Linked DNA regions of Homo sapiens: region 1 is linked to region 2. A link means that fine-mapping ties the variant in region 2 to the expression of a gene that starts in the linked region. Tissue or cell type: whole blood. Region 2 holds a variant in brackets; the other region holds the start of a gene. All regions are shown on one strand. Distances are between the middles of the regions.

Evidence for each region. PIP is the estimated chance that this variant, and not a neighbour inherited with it, causes the effect.
Region 1: it holds the start of VPS41, and the variant in region 2 is fine-mapped to the expression of VPS41 in whole blood (INTERVAL, PIP 0.94).

What each region holds. Positions count from the first base shown.
Region 1 is chr7:38,905,730-38,913,946 of GRCh38, reverse strand. It overlaps VPS41 (VPS41 subunit of HOPS complex), which reads left to right and starts at 4,756. Exons shown (of 29, transcript NM_014396.4): 1 at 4,756-4,793. The coding sequence starts at 4,773. RefSeq lists an enhancer at 4,649-4,748.
Region 2 is chr7:39,516,768-39,524,984 of GRCh38, reverse strand. It overlaps LOC105375237 (a long non-coding RNA gene), which reads left to right and starts at 2,483. Exons shown (of 4, transcript XR_927183.2): 1 at 2,483-2,524; 2 at 3,249-3,338. The variant T/C (reference allele first, on the strand shown) is at 3,722.

The DNA.
Region 1 (8,217 bases), 610 kb after region 2:
CCAGTAAATTTATGAAAAACATCCCCTCATCAGAAATCAAAGACATACAGTTAAAACAAAAATTAAAATATTAATACTATTTTCCCCAAGCTAAATTAATGAAATGTGTAAAAAATGATAATATCTAATGTTTGATGGTAGGAGGGTTTAGAGCTCTCATATATAGCTCACTGTAGAATAAATTGTGAGAGACTGAATATATAAAGGGGCACTGGCCAGACCAGATATTAAAATAGAACTCTGACCCACAGTCTGAAGCAAGCTGCAGCAATTGCCCAGGAAACCAAGCCATTGTCCACAATAGAAAACCCAGGAATCTAGCCTGACAGTCAAAACTGCCATCTCTAGTAACAATCCAGGAACCTTAACTATAACCTCTGAAACAATCAGCCTAAAATGACCAGGACTTTATTGGTAGTTGACAACTTCCTTAATTTTTACTCCCACTTCCAACTAAGAGCAACCAGAGAAAACCAAATATCCACCCCTACCAATCACATAGGTTGCCCCACTTCTGGTTACCCCACCTGCAGCTTTCTCATGCCAGCAGCCTCCAACCAGGGCCTACCTGAAGCCTTCCCTTTTCCTACCTTCCCACTCTTGTGCCTGTGTTTGAGTCTCTGCCACAGCGCAAGTGCTGGTGGCTGACTCCCTTTCTAGAGTAAGCTCTGAATAACTCCTCAATGGCATTTCTCATTTGGATGATCTTTATTCCTGCAGTTGATACCACCTTGCATTATAGCATTTTCCAGAATTATGCACAGGGATGTTAATTAGATGTACTTAAAGTATACAACAAAATAGAATGATTATATACATTACTTTTCATACGATGGAATTATAATGTGAAATCATGTTTTATTAAAATCATGTTTTAGAAGAATATTTTACAAGATTGTTATTGGGAAACAATCTTGAAATATGACTAAGTAAAAAAAAATGACAAAACTTGGTAATATGATCTTTGTTGGACAAGTTTTTAAATAAATACAGAGAGACAGAGAGGGGAAAGGAGGAAGAGAGAGAAAAAAGAGAAGAAAAAAGAAAGGCATATATCCAACAATCATAATCTAAGTGGAGAAATCATGAGTGGTTTTAGAATTTTATTTTATAATTTATTGTATTTTTCCAGTTATCTATTATGAACACATAGTACTTTTGTAATTAGAAAAATGTTATTAAGAAAATCTAATGTGGTTGCTCAGGGAAATTTCCAATAAGCTATATCTTAAAATGACATTTAGAATATTAGAAGGTAACAGGTTTCAGTAGGTACAGTTTTGGAAAAACTAAACTGCAAAATAAGCTGAGGCTGGCCAAATTTGCTAAAGATAACATCAATATTCTTTTAGCTATTTGGTACAGTTAATTAAATAAAGGCTAAGATTGTAGCTTGGAATTAGTAGTGTAATGTGGTGTAAATTTGCTTGTCATTAGCTGTCACACCTGTAGATTGAGAAAGGTAGCAATCTAAGAAGGAATGGAAGCTGAAGATTGGGAAAAGAATCTACAACACATCCCCTAATTAGCAAGGGCATAAGAGTGAATTATTTTAACTTTGTCCACTTTGCCGATTTTTCAAGTTTCCTGAATTTATAAATGCTATTTAATAATGGAAAATATTAAAGCCGTTCATATTGTTTAAGCAATGAAATAATGCTATTGTCACGAATAAAATGGCTATAATTTGAGTTAGTAAACTGTTTCAGACCTACGAAACAAACATATGAGACAGATCCTTGAAACCAGTGAGCCACTCTACAAATATAAGGTCTTAGGTCTGTTTTCTGAAGTCTATTAACAATTTTAGGTCCTATAGACTGAGAATGAGAAGTTGAATCTTACCTTTACCTCCATCTGCATTTTTGTTTTAGTTTTAGTTTTTGTTTTTGTTTTTGTTTTTTGAGACAGAGTCTTGCTCTGTCACCAGGCTGTAGTGTAGTAGTGTGATCTTGGCTCACTGCAACCTCCGCCTCCCGAGTTCAAGCGATTCTCCTGCCTCAGCCTCCCGAGTAGCTGGGATTACAGGCGCACACCACCACGCCTGGCTAATTTTTGTATTTTTAGTAGAGACGGGGTTTCACTATGTTGACCAGGATGGTCTCGATCTCTTGACCTCAGGGGATCCGCCCGCCTTGGCCTCCCAAAGTGCTGGGATTACAGGCGTGAGTCACTGCGCCCAGCCCTTTACCTCCGTATCTTGAAGTTGGGAGAGGGTGGACTGAGCAGGTGATTTGACACAGAATCAGTGACTGTTAGGCTGACTACTCCTCAAACTTGAAAGTATATGCATATGACTGAGGGATACTATTAAAATCCAGATTGTGGTTAAATACATCTCTCAAAGGGCCCCAAATTCTTCATTTTTAACAAGCTCCCAGGTAGTCTTTGGACTACACTTAGAGTAGTTGGAGAATACAAGACCACCTAGATAAGAGAGCCTCAAACTCTCACTTCACATGAGCAAATGGGATTTGGAGGTCACATGTGAATTTCATCCTGTCCACTGTCCCAGCACGAACCTGCTAGTTCATAGTAGGTTTCTTCCTCTAATTCACCTTTCCATACCTGTGTCTCTTCACTTTTCCAGTCTCTCCAAAAGGAAAGAGGCTCATAATACTTTATTGTAATCAAGAGAGTATACTGAATGCGGAACAAACTTGGGGAATTGAGAGTTTCTACGGTTAAATGAGCAGAGGAAAACCTATAAAGTCTGGCTATATCTTTAATAAGACCCATAACACCCTTCTTGAGAAAGAGAATAAACATTCTCATTCCAGAAAAGTAGAAAGGCCAGGAAGGCCCAGAGTGGATGGCCTTCAGCTTTGCTTGCTTGGGCTGCTTGACTTCTCACCAAAATAAAATGGAACCATAAAACAAAAATGACCTTGTGGTTAAGACAGTGGTAATAATCCCTTATTTTCCTTCTTCATCCCAATCTCATCCATTCAGCATAGAAGAGGAGATTGCCCAGTTGGAGAGGCTGTAGTCCTAGAGGTTTATGGGTGGCTGTCACTCATAACAGAAAAGAGAAAATTGGAGTTTGTGAGGAAAGTCAGAAAAGTGGAAGAGCTCATTTTATTTCTCTTTCCCGTGGATACTCGACTGAGGGCTTCCACAGTCTCTTTGGTCTGTATTAAAGTTTTTCTGGGATCTGGAGTTCATCATGAGCAATGTTTGGCCCTGGGCTGCTTTGCAAGAGATTTTAGAAACTCTTGGGTTAGGTTTATACTTGCCCTAGGTTTATACTTAGGGCATTGGGTGCTTGCTTATGGATTTCTTTTTTCTTTTTTCTTTTTTTTCAGATAGGGTCTCACTCTGTTGCCCAGGCTGGAGTGCAGTGGCACCATCAATGCTCACTGCAGCCTTAACCCCCACCTCAGCCTCCTGAGTAGCTGGAACTACAGGCGCACACCATTATGCCCGGCTAATTTTTGGTATTTTTTGTAGAGACAGGGTTTTGCCATGTTGTCCAGGATGGTCTCAAACTCTTGAGCTCATGAAATCTGACTGCCTTGGCCTCCCAAAGTGCTGGGATTACAGGTGAAAGCCACTGCACCTGGCTGCTTATAGACATTTAAATGCCTCAGGGTGGTCTATCCTGTCGGCTGAGTGATTAGCCCACTGGAAGAGGAACCCCAGCAAGGCTTGGAGGAAGAAGATGGAGGTAAGGCTGTTTAGGCCCTGGGGAGAAGACAGGTGTCTCAGAGATGATGTCACCTTGGCTTCTGGGCCATTGAGGAATCATGGGTTGAGCAAGCTACAGACAGAGTACTGAGTCCATGACTTCCTACTGGGTCAGAGTCAATGAGGCACAGGGAGTCAAAAAAGGTACTGAGGCAATCACCACATGCTGCCATTTGCAATGCCCTCTGCTGGTCACCAGCTACTCCAGTGAATGGAAATTGTAAAATGTCTGTCTTTGGACAAGGTGCTGCAGATTCCTGAGGGTTAAGAAACAGAATTCATAATGTTCAGAAACATGGAGAAGGAATCAGTCATTCTGAAGGCTGGAAGTAATACAGTGGTTGTGCAGATTTTGACCAAGGACAACTTCATATTGTGTCTTCACTTGAACATTTACCTATTGAATATCCTCAACAAAAGTTTAACAATTAATTTATTAAACAACAGAGATTTTTTTTAAATCAATGTTCATATGACAGGAGAAGACAAAGTAGCAAGCAAAAATAATGATATTATTTGTTGGCGTATAAATTTTCTCTGACTCTCCACTGCAAAGACTGCTTTATATTCACTGAATATACTTAAAAAAGAGAGAGAAAAAAGGACAAGAACACTTTTAGAGTAAGCAGCATTTGGCAATCACAGAGACTTTGGCATCAGGCAGGGCTGAATTCTATTACTAGTTCTGCCTCTTACTAGCTGCATGACCTCTGAGCTACGGTATTCTCCCCTATAAATGGGGATGATAGTAGGAATTGCTGTGAGGATTAAATGAGATAATTTATGCAAAGCTATAAACCCAGGGCATGACATAGTAAGTGCTTAATAAACACTAGAATAACTAGAGAAACAAGAACAACAATAAAATAAGCTATAGTATTAGCAATGGTTATGTTCACATCCTTCAAAGCAGAATTCCATTGAGTTTGGAGAATTGGCAGCAGAAATGAACCCTAGCAGGTCCGTCCCCTAGAAGAGATTTCCAGGCTCAGATGAAGCTAAAACTACATTTCCCAGAAGGCCCTGGGCCAAGTGTGTGGTTTCCTCTTATTTCCGGGTCTGTCAGGTGACTCTCCCGTGGCGCCATGGCGGAAGCAGAGGAGCAGGTAAAGGGTGCAGGTGGTAGTTGAGGGCACAGGGATATAGAGACTAGGGTGGGCTGTTTGGGGAGGGTGGAGTGGAGTGGGTGGAGGTGCGGAGCTGCTGGAATAGCGCAAGGCAGGTCCGCGGCAGGGCGGGGTGGGATGGCGAAAGTTGGTTTCGGGGAGCAGAGAGGATGCCAGCCCCGGGAGGGCACCTAGGGAAAGCGCTCTGACACACCCCCGCGTTCGGGCTGCCTTTCCTCGGGCCCCATCCCTGTGGCCTTTGCCCAGGGAAATTTTGGCATGAAGGCAGGCCCGGCTACCTCAGGGACTGACTGCCTGTGGGAGGAGGAAGAGAGGCCGGGTGACTGAAATTTAAGTTGCTTTCCACTTGAAGTAGGACAATAAGAACTAGGAGAGAGTAGACGATGAGTTTTGTTTTGTATCTATTGGAGTTAGGTACAGAGCTGGAGCACTGTTGCGGTGCAGCAGGGATTAAATGCATCCGTTCTGGAGCAAAAATGCCTGGGGTCCAAGTGCTGGTTCCTTTTCTTACCCAATGTGCTACTTTGAGCTACTTATTTAACTTTCCAGTGTGAGATGGGGGTAATAATAAGGCCGTCCTCAGAGGGTGGTTTAAGATGGAGAGAGGAGTTTATACACAAAGTTAGAGTACTTAGAACTGTTGGGCTTAGTAAAAATTAAATGGGATTATTTGTTGCTGGTAGTATCCAGTCAACAACTGGCAACGTGGCACTGAAGTTTAGGGTAGAAATTGGTGATGGGAATATGAATTATTTTCATATAGCAGTAGTGGTAATCACACATTTTATGAAATGACGAAGTAAAATAAAAAAGACAAAAAAGAGAAGCAGACCAAAAAAGAGGCTAGAACTTGGGGGAGATAACTTAAGTTTCCATTTCCAGTGTTATTTCAGTTGGATACTGTTTTTCTTCACAAGTTAACAGGGCTGTCAGTTGCAGTCATTGTCTCTAAACAGTGACTTGATGATGGGCTGTTTAGTATCATAAGAGTCATTTACCTAGTTCAATAATTTTTACTATTTTCAACATACTTCATTTGTTTTTACTTCATAGTGAAAATTTGTTCTGTATATATTTTATATATGCCAATAATTGAGACGTTTGACTAGGTAGAAATTTGGTTTGGCTGGTCCTTGTGATAACAAGATAACAAAGTCTCTTATCTAACACTAGAGACTCCTATTTCCATTCTAGCAGTTCAAAGGAAAACACTCATTAAGAACATATCATTTCATGACTGCCATTGCTCCTTTGAATAAGGGTGAGATTGTTTTTCACATTGTGCATCTTTATTTCATGTTGAAATGTTTGTTTTATGGTTTGATTTGAAAGCAAAAAACTGAGTTTCATATGTTCTTAGATATAGTGGAATAGAAATGGAGAGAGTTGCTCCTAGAAAAACCATTGTTTTTTCTTCCATTGAAAAAAACCTATGAAATATTTACCACTGTTTAGTGCAGAAGAAGAATTTAACAAAGTTGTCTGATATAAAAATGACACATACAAAATTAGGGATATAATAATGTTTCACATTTGTACATTATTTTCTAGTTTTAAAAACCCTTCCATATTGCATTTGGTCTTCCCAAAAGAATTCTATGAGGTAAATGTTTACTCTCATACATGGGTGAAACACCTCTGATATTCTAGACTTTCCAGGGGCTTCTAATCTTATTCAGAGGAAAAGCCACAGCCATTACGGTAGCCTGGTTGTCCCACAGGACCTTGACCCAGCTGCCCTTAGCCACCTTTTCTTGACCTCATTTTTCCCACTACTCTCCTTCCCTTCTGTGACTCTGCATCAGCTGTACTGGCTCTCTTAGTCTTCAAAAAGCCAGGCAGGTTCCTATCTCAGGGCCTCTTTGCTCATGCTGTTCCTTTTTGAGGAACCCTGATATTTACAGGCTTCCTCATTTCCTTCATGTCTTTGTCCAAGTGTTCTTTTTCATTGCGACCTTCCCTGACCATGCTTTGAAACCTTCCTGCATTATTTTTCCCTATAATGTGCATCACCGTTTGACATACTGTATTATAAAATTTGTTTTTTTTTTTTTCCCTGTATATTTCTGTGTACCTCTTACCACAGAGCTTGGAACATCCTGACAAGGATTTGTTCACTGCTGTATGTCCAATACCTAGAATATTGCTTGTTACTTAATAAATTTGTGTTAAATGATTGACTTTTACTGATAAACAAATTGAAATTCAGGCAACTTGAGTAACGTGCTCAGGCTTATATCTATAATATAATAAATCTCCAGTCCTCTGTCTCCATAGCTCATGACTTTTCACTAGAATACCCTACCTTTTTAAAATATATGTAAGAACCTAAATCTAAATAGTTTTTTTACTTTATGAAGTAGAATTAGCCCTTTCCATTTTAATGATTTTCCCTCAAGCCACCATTCCACTTTGATGCTTTAACAGCCAATATGTAGTTGGAGTGGGCATTCTCCTCTCCAGTGGTGTCAGTATCTTAAAAAGACTAGTCGTGGACCAGGCACAATGGCCCATACCTGTAATCCCAGCACTTTGGGAGGCCAAGGTGGGGCGATTGTTTGAGCCCAGGAGTTCGAGACGAGCCTGGGCAACATAGCAAAACCCTATCTCTACAAAAATTACAAAAATTAGCCAGGCATGGTGGTGTGTAGTCCCAGCTACTCGGGAGGCTGAGGTGGGAGGATTGCTTGAGTCAAGAGGGTCGGGGCAGCAGTGAGCCATGATCGTGCCACTGCACTTCAGTCTGGGCAACAGAGCAAGACCCTGTTTAAAAAAAAAACGAAAAACAAACAAAAAAAAACCCAGCAGTCTGTTGTAAATGGCTGAAAGACACATTCACAAATTGTTCAGTTCTTTTTTTTAAAAGAAAGTAAGTAATTGTACCTAATCTTATCCTTTATAGATTAAAAATGGTTAGGCTTTTCTCTGATTTGTTTTTGCATTTCACAGTAGGAAGCCATTGAAATCTGATGACGGTAGTAGGGCTTTATTATACCATTTTTTTAAAGCTAAAAGTGTATAAAAATGGAGAAAATAGGGCTGCGTGCGGTGGCTCATGCCTGTAATCCCAGCACTTCGGGAGGCTGAGGCGGGTGGATCACCTGAGGTCAGGAGTTCGAGACCAGACGGGCCAACATGGTGAAACCCCGTCACTACTAAAAATACAAAAAAATTAGTCAGGCATGGTGGTGGGCGCCTGTAATCCCAGCTACTCGGGAGGCTGAGGCAGGAGAATCACTTGAACCCAGGAGGCAGAGGTTGCAGTGAGCCGAGATTGTGCCATTGCACTCCAGCCTGGGTGACAAGAGGGAGACTCCATCTCAAAAACAAACAACAACAACAAAAAAACCCCCAAAAATGGAGAAAATAACTGTTCTATTGAACTTTTTAGAAAACTTGGCAT
Region 2 (8,217 bases):
ATTAGTTCATTTTCACACTGCTATAAAGAACTGTTAGAGACTGGGTAATTTATAAAGAAAAGAGGTTTAATTGACTTATAATTCTGCATGGCCAGGAGGCCTCAGGAAACTTACAATCATGATGGAAAGCGAAGGGGAAACAGAGACCTTCTTCACATGTAGCAGGAAAGAGAGTAGTAGCAAGAGCAGGGGAAAGTGCCTCATAAAACCATCAGATCTTGTGACAACTCACTCAGTACCATGAGAACAGCATGGAGGAAACCATCCCCCTGATCCAATCACTTTCTACCTGGTACTTCCCTCAACACTTGGGGATTATGGAGATTACAATTCAGGATGAGATTTAGGTGGGGACACAGCCAAACCATACCAATAGTTATAAAGTAATATCTCATTGTGGTTTAGATTTGCATTTTTCTGATGATTCGTGATGTTGAGCATCTTTTCACATACCTGTTGGCCACTTATATGGGTTCTTTGGGGGGAAATATCTATAGAAGTCCTTTGCTCATTTTTAAATTGAGTTATTTGGTTTTTTTCTTGAGCTGAAGAAGTCCCATATATATGTATTTCAGATATTAACACTTTATCAAAAACATGGCTTGCCAATATTTTCTCTTATTCTGTGTGTTGCCTTTTCACTCTGTTGATTGTTTCCTTTGCTGTGCAGAAGCTTTTAAATTTGATATAGTCCACTTGTTCTATTTTTCCATTTCTTGCCTGTGCTTTTGGGGTCATATCCAGGAAATCATGGCTAAGGCCAATGTTAGGAAGTGGATCTACCTTTTGAAGGGAGAAGAGTCAAAGCATTTGTGGACACATTTAAAAACTTCCAGATATGTTAATATTCATTTAAAATATCATATTAGTCCATCAGAAGGCAGAATCTGAAGGCAAAGTGTATTAAAATTATGGTTTCATTATTTAATTGCTGTGTAGCATTAGAAAGATCACTTAATTCTTGGTGCCTGTTTTCTTAGCTGTAAAATGGGGATGATGACATACATTTCTGTTATATATAACATCATATAACATCTATTCATCCCTGAAAAAAATGTGTTCTGCCTTAAACAAGTTTTCAAGAAAAAAACAACCCCATCAAAAAGTGGGCAAAGGATATGAACAGACACTACTCAAAAGAAGACATTTACGCAGCCAAAAGACACATGAAAAAATGTTCATCATCACGGGTCATCAGAGAAATGCAAATCAAAACCACAATGAGGTCCCATCTTACACCAGTTAGAATGGCGATCATTAAAAAGTCAGGAAACAACAGATGCTGGAGAGGATGTGGAGAAATAGGAACGCTTTTACACTGTTGGTGGGAGTGTAAATTAGTTCAACTGTTGTGGAAGACAGTGTGGCGATTCCTCAAGGATCTAGAACTAGAAATATCATTTGACCCAGTGATCCCATTACTGGGTATATACCCAAAAGATTATAAATCATGCTGCTATAAAGACACATGCACACATATGTTTATTGCGGCACTGTTCACAATAGCAAAGACTTGGAACCAACCCAAATGCCCATCAATGATGTACTGGATTAAGAAAATGTGGCACATATACACCATAGAATACTATGCAGCCATAAAAAAGGATGAGTTCATGTCCTTTGCAGGGACACGGATGAAGCTGGAAACCATTATTCTGAGCAAACTATCACGAGGACAGAAAACCAAACACTGCATGTTCTCACTCATTGGTGGGAATTGAACAAGAACACTTGGACACAAGGGAGGGGAACATCACACACCAGGGCCTGTCATGTGGTGGGGGGCTGGGGGAGGGATAGCATTAGGAGAAATACCCAATGTAAATGACGAGTTAATGGCTGCAGCAAACTAACATGGCACATGTATACCTATGTAACAAACCTGTACGTTGTGCACATGTACCCTAGAACTTAAAGTATAATTAAAAAAAATTATTATTTTTTAATTATAAAAACATCATGCACTAAAAATAACAGGACCAATGGGAAAAATAGTGCTGGGAAAACCACACGAAACCTGTGGAACTGTGTAATCAGAGTACTCACAGAAACAGTAACACTCCTGATGAAAGTACTTGCACGGTTCTATGCAGGAATTGGCAGCTGGAATCTCAGGCAATCAACCGTTTGCAGCCTTCACCACTGGGCTTGTGCCTCAGTTGAAGGTGCTGGAGGGCATGCTTCTAATCATCACTAATCTACCACTTTAATACGGAAGCTAACTTTTTCACAGCTTTTTCATCAACACTTGTAGCTTTGCCAAATGGATATACATAACAGAAAACTCAGTGGTTCTCTTTTCCTTCCTGCCTCCCTCCCTCCGTCCCCCCCTTTCTCTTTTCTTTTCTTTCTTTCTTCCTCCCCATCCCTTCCCTTCCCTCCCTTCCCTTCCTTCTTTTTTTTTTTGAAACAGGGTTTTACTGTCACCTAGGCTGGAGTGACATCATCAGAGTTCACTGCAGCCTCGATCTGCTGGGCTCAAGCCATCCTCCCACCTAAGCCTCCCGAAGAGCTAAGACCACAGGTGTGCACCACCACCCCAAGCTAATTTTTGTATTTTTAGTAGAGACAGGGTCTTGCCATGTTGGCCAGGCTGGTCTCAAACTCCTGGGCTCAAGTGATCTGCCCGCCTCAGCCTCCCAAAATGCTGGGATTACAGGCATGAGCCACCATGCCTGGCCATGACCTAGTGGTTCTTGAAGTCTTTAAACCAGCCTTCACTTGCACTAAGAAAAAGTACTTCGATGCACTTTTAATTTTTTTTAAGTCTTCATTTATTATCATGCCTCTTCTTCTTTCATTGTGAGAAAACTTGTGAGATCTTTTTTTTTTCTTTTTTTTTTCTGAGATGGAGTTTTGCTCTTGTTGCCCAGGCTGGAGTGCGGTGGCGCAATCTCGGCTCACTACAACCTCCGCCTCCTGGGTTCCGGCAATTCTCCTGCCTCATCCTGCCTCAGCCTCTCAAGTGGCTGGGATTACAGGCGTCCACCAGCACACCTGGCTAATTTTTTTTTTTTAAGTAGAGACGGGGTTTCACCATGTTGGCCAGGCTGGTCTTGAACTCCTGACCTCAGGTGATCCACCCGCCTCAACCTCCCAAAATGCTGGGATTACAGGCATGAGACACTGCGCCTGGCCATGAGATCATTTTAAAACATTAATGTACTGGGAAGAATCAAATATGAACTACAAGATGTGTTATAAACATCACTCCCTTGTTTACTAACCGTGTATGAGCTAATTTGCAGCAAGGATCAGGCATTGTAACAGCCTCATGAAGTTGTGAAGATTAAACGAAGTGACACATGTGAATCATTGAGGACAATGCTGGGCAAATAGTAAGTGCTTAAAAAGTTATTTTGATTATAATCATATTTGTTTAACCAATCCCCTCTTAGTTTTCCTGCTCCATTTGGAACTACACACCACTCTAGAACCTATTTTTCGAGTTTTTCCTATTTTCACAGTGGTTAGCTCAGATCAGAGCCTTCAGTAATTTCTCTCAGGCCTGGAGTTCCTGGGACTGATTATGTGTGAGAATTTACAAATATGGATTCACTTACAAAGTCCATTCCTGTGTAGCATAGTTTGGCTTTAATTTAGAAACATTTCGCTCATTTAATTTTAGGAACAAGTATAATGATAAAACAAATACATCTCGAATAGGTGCAGCCCTTCAGACTATATACTTTTATTTTCAGAATGATAACTTCAAGGCACC[T/C]AGATAATTACGAAACAATAAAAAGTTATATTATTTATTGTGTTTTCTCAGGGAAGGATGGGCATTGACTGTCTTATAGGAATATTCTTTTTTTTTGAGACAGAGTCTTGCTCTGTCACCTAGGCTGGAGTGCAGTGGCATGATCTCGGCTCACTGCAACCTCTGCCTCCGGGTGCAAGTGATTCTCCTGCTTCAGCCTCCAGAGTAGCTGGGATTACAGGCGCGCCCTACCACGCCCTGCTAATTTTTGTATTTTTAATAGAGAAGGGGTTTCACCATGTTGGCCAGGCTGGTCTCGAACTCCTGACCTCATGATCCGCCTGCCTTGGCCTCCCAAAGTGCTGGGATTACAGGCGTGAGCCACCATGTCTGGCAGGAATATTCTAAAATATAAAAAGAAACAAACTGGGCATATTGGTTAACCCTGAGTTATGGATAAAGTTCAAGTTGAGAAATCTTGCCTTTCTTCAAGCAGTTTAATTACTCAAGGTAGAATCTCTTTAATAAGTAACACTATATTTATTAGATTTTCAAGGAAATATTACTTGTGCCGCATAAACGGCACTTCATTGATATTTTGAAAAAGCTACTATATCTTAAACACTATAAATTTTCCTAAATTCCCCTCTTTTGAATTCTTTTGGTAACAACAGCCATGACAATAGAGATAACTAAGATTGCTCTCATGTTTGCTGTGTGCCAAGGCCCTGTGATTCACTAAATGAACTCAATGCTAAAATTGTCCTTTAATCTGGACTTTGCCTACGTATGTGAACTTGGCACTGTGTTAAAATCAAACATTTGTGTCGTTAGGACTTTTTTTTTTTTTTTTTTTTGAGACAAAGTCTTGCTCTGTCACCCAGGCTGGAGTGCAGCGGCATGATCTCGGCTCACTGCAACCTCTGCCTTCTGGGTTCAAGTAATTCTCCTGCCTCAGCCTCCTGAATAGCTGGGATTACAGGCGCGCGCCACCACACCCGGCTAATTTTTGTATTTTTAGTAGAGACAGGGTTTCACCATGTTGGTCAAGCTGGTCTCGAACTCCTGACCCCTCACAAAGTGCTGGGATTACAAGCGTGAGCCACCGCGCCCGGCCAGAACTTTTGAAAGGAAATTTACAAAGGTAGTTATTGGATAAAAGCGTGATAGAGTAGTTAGCACCAGGTGGCGCTAAAGGACTGAAATTGGAAACGGCTACGGTATTTGGTCCTCTTACCTGAGGGCCGGGGAAGGGCGATGCTCCTGGTTTAATGGCTGTGTTACAGGAAGGAAGGACAAGCATTTGCCTTCCTATGCCCTGTTACGAACAGATGCTAGGATTGCGCCTGTCACATTGTCTAGTTTCCCTCCCTGGAAAGTTGAACTCCCTAAAGGTAGACACAGTAACCTTACTGTGGTCTCAAGTGAACAAAAGGCCCCATAGTTTTTCTAAAGAAAAGTGAAAACAAATATCACATGAAATTGCTTTTTGGAATGCGTTTAGTCTTGCTCTCACCTTTGTAGGTATCCAGGAATGGAGACTGGACAAAGGTAGCCAAACGAGAAAACATCTCCCAGAATTCCTTGCCTCGGGAGTAGACAGTGCAAAATCCTTCCCACCAGTTTGGGGTTTATTATTTAATGCACTTCCCCTTTCCTAGACATTTCCAATGTGCTCGTAAGTGTTTTTCTCTCTGGCTGTTACCAGGAGGATAAAATCTCAGAATGGAGACCATAGATATAAGAATAAAAATAAAATCCTTCCACCGGCTTTCTAAGGGGATAGCAGGAGAAAGAACAGGAAGTGAAGTAAAAAGCCTCGCTGCAAGTAAACGTAAAACCCCGGGAGCCTGGGAAACAGAAGCTGCCAAATTAAAGAATGGCAACAGTTCCTGCAAGGAGTCAGGCACAGGGGAGGCTCCTTCCTTGGGCAGAGTTACTGGGACATTGAGAGGGAGGCTTTATGGAAAGCGACTTTCGGAGGTAGATTGAGAAAGAAAAGATGTTTAAAAAAGTGCCTGAGATTTCTACCATCAGCTCTTTCTTTTCTGAAAGTCAAGTCTACTAAAAAACCAGACCAATAGCTAAGTATCTTGCTCAATTTACATAAATCTCTTGCAATACGCATCACTACGGGCCATTTGTGATACAAGGTTTGCGCCAAGTAATTCACTTATGTCAGCAATCCACCAGCCAGTCTAACCCAGTCTGACCCAGGCATCCACATAGAGCGAGATGTTGCTGCCATTCCCTGTTTATGGAATTTTTCTGCTGTCTTAGGGAGGCTGATCATGGAAACTCCTGAGTGCAGTATTCCAAGTACAGTAGCACCAGGAATTGCATTGTGGGCTTAGAATGAAGCAATTTATCCCTTCTGTCCCCACTCCATTCCCTCCTTATTTCAAGGACCTCCATGAGACAAGGGAGAGAAGAAGGCGGTGGGAATGGCTAAGTGTCCCAATGTCTCTGGCTTAGTTCTAAGCATTTTGCTTCACGTAACCTGGAGATCAGGTCGTTCCTTGGCCAACCGGGAGAGGCTTTCTCCTCCTAGGCCTTCTGTGTTTGTTTCATTTATTTCAACATTCTCATGTGAAACCATTAAGATATTTTGCTGCTAAATGGAATTCATTCAGCCTGTAAGAACTGTAAGATCAAAGAAGGGGTATTATTAGTTTTTCAACAGTTGATCCTAAGGTTGGAAATGTGGTGATGAGGCTGGGTGTAATGGCTCATGCCTGTAATCTCAGTGCTTTGGGAGGCTGAGGTGGGAGAATCACTTGAGGCCAGGAGTAACGAACATAGTGAGACTCTGTCTCTCAAAAGAAAAAATATGCAAAAATTATCTGGACATGGTGGCACACAGCTGTATTCCTAGCTACTCAGGAGGTTGAGGCAGGAAAATCGCTTGAGTCTAGGAGTTTGAGGCTGCAGCGAGCTATGACCATGTCACTGCACTCTGGCCTAAGTGACAAAGCGAGACCCTGTCTGAGGGAAAAAAAAAAAGTGTTAAAGAATATCTCTTCTTCCCACAGATAGCCAGTGATTCTACAGGAAAACATACTCCACCTTTCTAGGTTTTCATTTATTCAAGCCCTCAAAAGGATTCTATAAACATGGGCTCATCTAGACTGAAGTATAAATAGGTTTAAGATGGGAAAATCACATGGAAAAATGAACATGGTATTAGGAGACCAAACGTGAGTCTTGGTGTCGCCGCTGATGTGCTGTGGTGTAAACGGTTTGGGTGTCAGTTTCTCAGCAGCAAAATGAATGTAATGCAAGGCAGATGTTGCCCCCACCTTAGTCAGCACTGGGAAAGAGGGATCACTTGCCTATATTGACAGCCCCTTACTTACTGTCCTCAGATCCAGCCTTTCTAATGGACAGGGGACTTTGCATTCACCATGTGGTATGTGTACTTCTACTCATTGGAACTGAGCTTGCAAGCTCTTCCCTTTGGGTCTGGAGAGCCCCTGGCACTCTTTGTTTATTATGAGGAGCAGAATGACTGGACAACACCAGCTCAGTTCCAATGAGTAGAAGTACACATACCACACGGTGAATGCACCGTAGGCGAAGCCGTTTCCCTCATGGTGGTCGTGTCTGCTAGGTTATTATTTTAGCAGCCAGTCCCTTCACACTTTTGCACAATGGTTCCCTTTGAGGCAACTTGCTATTAGATGGTTACAAAGAGACAGCATCACACTAGGGTGGCAGGTCCAGAAAAGCACTCTGAGTATGTCGTCCTGAAGTGGTTGTGATCAGCTGCCCTCTCTAAGTCTATTGGGTTAAATAGCCAGGGTGAGGTAGCATAGGCACTCCGGAAGAGGTGAGGTGATCTGGACTTTGTGTCGTGTCTTGGCAAAGCTGCTGCAGACAGTGTTGAAAGGCATGTCTTTTATTCTCCTTTCAAAGGCAACTTCCTTCTGTGTCAGTCACCTCTCTGACAAGGGCCTTGATCTTTGTGGGCACTTCTCCCAGAGTAGATTTTGGGAAAGATTTTGAGTGGCACCAACCCTTATGAATTAATATTGTTCTATAGACTACCACCATCTGGGAGGAGATCTGGGGCTGGAAATTGGGCAGGGGCATCCCAAGGACCCCCAGGAACTCATGCCTCACTTCTGTCTGCACAGAGTCCTGTAGAGTGGAAGCAGTTACTGTTCTCAGGGGATGGCACAGGTGGCACCATCCATGTGGGATTAAAGGGTTCTTAGAAAACATCGAAGACATTAAAGGGATCACTACAATTTAAAATGGCATTTTGATAGTTTGATAGATATATTCTCTGGTTCTGTTAATAACTGTAAAGTCTTAAACATAATGTGCTATTTAAAAATTGCCACATTCAAGCTGTTGTCTGTGTGTGTGTGTGTGTGCATGTGTGTGAGCGAGAGCAGGCTTGCACATGCACGCACGTGCTTAATGCTCACTTAGTATTGTCAAGCTGTTTGTATTTTAATGAATGTATTTGTAATGGCAAGGGACATATTACAGATGCATTTTTCCTTCAGTTA